2 separate regions of the Homo sapiens genome follow, and region 2 is linked to region 1. Evidence: fine-mapped expression QTL. A gene starts in region 1. The other region holds a variant in brackets. All regions are shown on one strand. Distances are from middle to middle. Region 1 holds the start of DPH2 (diphthamide biosynthesis 2). Region 2 overlaps IPO13 (importin 13).

Region 1 (2,881 bases):
AAGTAGGACCTAAGGTTGTCCATATGTCCGCTGCTCCCCGCTTACACAGGACCTCCAGCACAGGATGGTCAGGGATCAATCAGCACCAGGGACAGCTCCTGACCTATTCTTGCTTTTCTCCCTTAGCAGTGTTGCCTCCCTTTCTGTCTCCTCAGCTATAGTTTCACCTAGGCTGCCTCTCAGGTACCCCAGGCTTCTCCTCAGTAAGATCTGAAGAGCAGAATGAGTTCTCCCCACTTTTACCCTTGAGCTTTCAATCTCCTTGTGGGTGATGGGGAACTCGTTACTCCCACATTCATCCCACTCCTTCCCTGTTCAATAGATCCGGGTTTGATGCTGGTTGTGCCACAGAATTAGTGTCTTATTACACAAGTAGTCTCTTTGAACCTCAGTTTCCGTATCTGACAGAGGTATGTAAGGAGGGCATTTCAAGTGATGTTGCATGTGGGGGTGTTTGCATATAAGTAAACATGGGGAGTAGAGGGGATGTGAGGGGCTGGAGGGTAGAGGTCTATGTGGTATGCACTGGGGGTATTGCTGGGAAGCAGCAGTGTTTGAGGATGGCTGGAGCTGTGCAGAGCATCTCCTGTGACTTGAGGATGTGCCAGTCATGTCCTTGGTACCACTCGGGATAATTCTTACTCCAAAGACTGTAAACACTAAAAATGAAGTGCCTAATGTACAGTAAGTGCTCAGTATTTGGCTGATTAAATAGCAAATGCTTTCACTGCATGCGATATCCAAAGAACTACTTTGTAAAGTTTTGTATATAAATTAATTAGACCCTCACAACAATCTTATTAAGAGGTACTATTGTCACAACTCCCCATTCTTCAGATAAGGAAATGGGCATAGGGACATTCCTAAGATACTCAGTAGCAAGTGACCAAGCACAATATTCAAACCCGAGCCGGTCGGCACCAAGTTTAAAATTATGCAGTGTAGCCGGGCACGGTGGCTCACGTCTGTACTCTCAGCATTTTGGGAGGCCGAGATGAGTGGATTGCTTGAGTTCAGGAGTTTGTGACCAGTCTGAGCAACATGGCAAAAACCTGTCTCTACAAAAAATACAAAAATTAGCTGGATGTGGTGGTGCGCCTGTAGCCCCAACTACTCAAGAGGCAGAGGTGGGAGGATGGCTTCAGTCCAGGAGGTGAAGGTTGTGGAGATCGCGCCACTGCACTCCAGTCCAAGCAACATAGCGAGACCTTGTCAAAAAAAAAAAAAAATGAATGAATGAAAGAATTATGCAGTGATACTGCCCAGAGGATAGAGTGCACGTGAAATGCTTAACAGTGAAGTCGGTGTTCCTGATGGCCGCGGGTCGGCTGAACCGGACTCCCAGCGCCCGAGAGGAGGCCAGGGGAACTACAATGCCCACAAGGCTCCGCGCCTTCCTCGATGTACTTCCGGCTGGCCTGGGACTCAGGCTGAACATTGGTTCTCTGTGCGGGGCGGTGGCGGGGATTGGAGGGCGGGAGCTGTGCTGACTTAGGATTGGCAAAATCGCTATCAGCCACGCCTCTAAAACCCGGAAGTAACCTCCCCGGTAGTCCCACGTGTAGCGGAGAAACAGTAGTTAGGATGGCTGAAGGGGATACTCACCGGCTGAAGGCCGACTGTGATTCCCCCTACCCCCACAAGGCGATTTTGACCCCCTGAGGGCTGCTCTAGAGGACTCAGGCCCCGAAGCTGTCCCAGGGAGGTCCCCGCTGCATCCCACCACCCAAGCTGTGCCTCATGGAGTCGATGTTTAGCAGCCCTGCCGAGGCGGCGCTGCAGCGAGAGACCGGGGTGCCAGGACTGCTTACTCCTCTTCCGGACCTGGACGGAGTGTACGAGCTGGAGCGAGTCGCTGGATTTGTCCGCGACCTGGGGTGTGAACGAGTGAGGACAGACTTAGGGAAGGGTGGCTCGCCTCTGTCGGGATGGGTCGCCCAGAGGATCCGGATCTTGGGGGATTTTGTGAGGGCGAGAGGGTGGGGGAATCAGTCTGTCCGCAGCGCGTTGACCATCCCTCCCTTCCACCTACTACGTGGGGCAGAGTGCCCCTCTGGGACCAGGGGCTTTGAAGGTTGAGTGGGAGCTCCTGGAAGATTGCTTTAAAGAAGCCCTCAGTGGGAGAGAGGCTGTCCCTGACTCCATGGTTTATGCTTATAGGTTGCCTTGCAGTTCCCTGACCAGCTATTGGGAGATGCTGTGGCTGTGGCTGCACGACTGGAGGAGACGACAGGGTCAAAGATGTTCATTCTGGGTGACACAGCCTACGGCAGGTGTGAACTTGGCCTTAGGTGGGCCAGGCCTGGGGATCCGGGGCTCATGGGGTTTTACGTCTATGACAGTGATTGCCTTCAATGGTGGTGTTTCTCCTTGATGATAATGGTAATGACTCCCCTTCTGATGCTAGCTCCTTTCATTGACAATGTCTTCCTTTAATGAAACCATTTTATTCACTGACCACATTTCCCAGTGATGACAGCAACTCGCCTCCAGAAGAGAACCCATTTCTCTGATGCTATCTTCCCTGCAGCTGCTGCGTGGATGTGCTGGGTGCTGAGCAAGCTGGAGCTCAGGCTCTCATACATTTTGGCCCTGCCTGCTTAAGCCCTCCAGCCCGCCCACTGCCCGTTGCCTTCGTGCTTCGTCAACGTTCTGTGGCCTTGGAGCTCTGTGTCAAGGCCTTTGAGGCCCAGAACCCAGACCCCAAAGCGCCTGTGGTGCTGCTGAGTGAGCCGGCCTGTGCCCATGCCCTGGGTAAGGGGTTTTGCCTGTGTATGCACAAAGGGTGAGCCAACTGCTTTATGCCTTAATTTCCCCATTTCCATATACCATCCATAGAACTCTTGATATGGGCTTGGCCCCAGCCTACTGGGTCATATTT
Region 2 (2,907 bases), 21 kb before region 1:
GACTCGGTTTCCCCCGCAGGCCTCCCTCCCCTGTGACTCCCTCCACACAGATTCTGGGGACAGAGCTGTTACCTGCCACTAGGATCCCCGCCTGAGAGCTCCTCACTGACGGCTCCCTCCTCGGAGTCCCCTTCATTGGGTCTCCTAAGAGCACCAATTTTGGTCTCTGGCAAGCCTCCCACCCCCAAACGAGGTGGGGAGGCCTCGGCAGCCATGCCCGCCCTGGGCCCCCCCTCACCCCACCACTCCCTGGGCACCCAAGCCGGGGTCTAGCAGGGGGCCAGCAGCCAAGGGGCTGGGGCAGGAGACAGATCAGGGCCCACCTCCCTGCCAGGGAGGGAGCAAAGATGGAGCGGCGGGAGGAGCAGCCGGGGGCTGCAGGGGCTGGAGCAGCACCAGCCTTGGACTTCACTGTGGAGAACGTGGAGAAGGTATGAGGGCTCTGGGGTGGGCACTCCAGTGACAGAGCAGAAGTTCTGGGGACTGTCACTGATGGCAGAGCTCAGGCCTGGGCTGGGTGCCCGCTGGTATGGTGCCCCCAGAGCACCTGGCATTTGCTCTCTTTCTGGGCAGGCAGTATTGCAGTGCCCTAATGGGCTATTTTTGTCTTTCCTTACAGGCAGGTCCCCTGTGGATAGATACTCTAGGGTCTTGGGATGGTCCCTTCAGGGTGCTGTGACTTAGCCTTCCGTCCAGACTGGCTATGTTCCAGCTCCATGGGAACTGCATGAGCAGTGCAGTAGGAAACTGGGAACCCAGGAGACCTGCAGCTCAGTCTCCTGGAATTATACTGATGCCAAACCATCCTGGACCTGGTTTTGTTGAGCCAAGGGCTCAGAAAATAATCTGGAACTAAAACAATCTGGGTTGTTTTGACTCTTTGGAGAAGGGTCCTTCCTTTATTGGATGGAAGCCAGACCAGTCCTGAGCAGGCAGGCCTGGGGCTGTCTCCCTTTGTTTTGTGCTGAGTCCAAGGGTCCTGGCCCTGCTGGGAGCCTTACAGGGCTCCTCCCTACTCGCCTGCCCACATAGCTCCCTGCCATGGCCCTCCCAGGCTCCCCGACTGCCCAGCCCATCTTTCTGAACTGCCTCTTTGGTTCTTTTCTGTATCTGCTCCCTACAACTTGAAATGCAGGAATGCATGCACCCTGGGATGAATGGGGAGATGGGGCTCCCTTACTTGAAAGCAGGGAATGATGTTCACTTGTTATCCTTAACCCCCGTTTGCCATAACAAACAATGAGGATGCATCTCTTCTGCCTGCTTTGGCGTCCCTGAGGGGCCAAACAAGGGCCAATGGCCATAACTGGCTGTCAGGGGTACAAATAGAGCTAAGCTTACTTGGATGGAGCCTGCTTAGGGGTCA[G/A]GGTCCTGGCCATACTCTTCCGCCCCTTGGAGCAGGGCAGTGTTGGCATGGTGGCGCACTGTTCCATGTGCTATTGGGAGATAAATCTCACTGTTTTCTTACTTCATAAAGTCCCGTTGGAATTGAGACCCCGGGGATTCTGCTAGTGGAGAGCACTAAGCTAGGTGTTTGCCAGGGCTGCAGCTATGGCCAAGGCTTCTCTGGATCAATTGGTTGGACATGTGCCCTCTGAGGAGTGTTCTCACCCTCTCCTCCAGCATGTCTGCCCCAGGGCTGCCTGGCAAAAGTCTTAGTCCTGCTCTGATTTCACACTGGCTTTGGTGCCAGCATCTGGACTGACCTAGGGATGATCCTGGGGGAGCTGAAAGGAGCTGTTGGAGTTGATGGGAGCAGCTGTGCCTGGGAGGGTCAAGTCCCCTCAAGCTGTTCCATGCCCTTCTCAGACTTAGCTTCATCCCTGTGAAGCTGTTCCTTCCACCTGGGCCTTGCCCTCAAGTGCCTCCCCTTTGGGGAGATCAGCCTCCTCTTTTTTGCTTTCCTGTGGAGATTCCCTCTCTGAACCCATAATGTTTTGCTGTAAGGAGAAGAGGATATGGTAGAGCATGGGCAAGGTTCAGGCTCTCAAGATATCAGCAGGACCCCAGGCCCAGGAAACACTGCAGAGCGCTGAGCTCTCCCTGCTCAGCCCCCCAGTCAGGGAGAGGGAGCAGCCTTGCAGGACCAAGTCACGCCTCTGTTCTGGGCTCTGGCAGGATCCAGAGTGGCCAGCACCTGCTCAGTCCTGTGCTGTCCTGCAGGCGCTGCACCAGCTCTACTATGATCCCAACATTGAGAATAAGAACCTGGCTCAGAAGTGGCTGATGCAGGCCCAGGTCTCCCCACAGGCCTGGCACTTCAGCTGGCAGCTACTGCAGCCCGACAAGGTACCAGAGATCCAGTACTTTGGGGCCAGTGCTCTTCACATCAAGATCTCTCGCTACTGGAGTGACATCCCCACTGACCAGTATGAAAGCCTAAAGGCACAGCTCTTCACCCAGATCACCCGCTTTGCCAGTGGCTCCAAGATTGTACTGACTCGGCTGTGCGTGGCACTGGCCTCACTGGCTCTCAGCATGATGCCTGACGCTTGGCCATGTGCTGTGGCAGATATGGTACGACTCTTCCAGGCTGAGGACTCACCAGTGGATGGGCAGGGCCGCTGCCTAGCCCTGTTAGAGCTGCTGACAGTGCTGCCTGAGGAGTTCCAGACCAGTCGCCTACCCCAGTACCGCAAAGGCCTGGTGCGGACCAGCCTGGCGGTGGAATGTGGGGCTGTCTTCCCGCTGCTGGAGCAGCTGCTACAGCAGCCCAGCTCACCCAGCTGTGTGCGTCAGAAGGTGCTCAAGTGTTTCTCCAGCTGGGTGCAGCTGGAGGTGCCGCTGCAGGACTGTGAGGCGCTCATTCAGGCTGCCTTTGCTGCTCTGCAGGACTCGGAGCTCTTCGACAGCAGTGTGGAGGCCATTGTGAATGCCATCTCACAGCCTGATGCCCAGAGGTGAGCT

Evidence for each region.
Region 2: its variant is fine-mapped to the expression of DPH2 in whole blood (TOPMed, PIP above 0.99).

What each region holds. Positions count from the first base shown.
Region 1 is chr1:43,968,436-43,971,316 of GRCh38, forward strand. It overlaps DPH2 (diphthamide biosynthesis 2), which reads left to right and starts at 1,575. Exons shown (of 6, transcript NM_001384.5): 1 at 1,575-1,887; 2 at 2,161-2,273; 3 at 2,531-2,754. The coding sequence starts at 1,741. RefSeq lists enhancers at 1,606-1,885, 2,371-2,881.
Region 2 is chr1:43,947,254-43,950,160 of GRCh38, forward strand. It overlaps IPO13 (importin 13), which reads left to right. Exons shown (of 20, transcript NM_014652.4): 1 at 1-431; 2 at 2,164-2,900. The coding sequence starts at 348. Among named protein-coding and RNA genes, the nearest start is that of IPO13, 1.8 kb to the left of the region's middle. The variant G/A (reference allele first, on the strand shown) is at 1,367.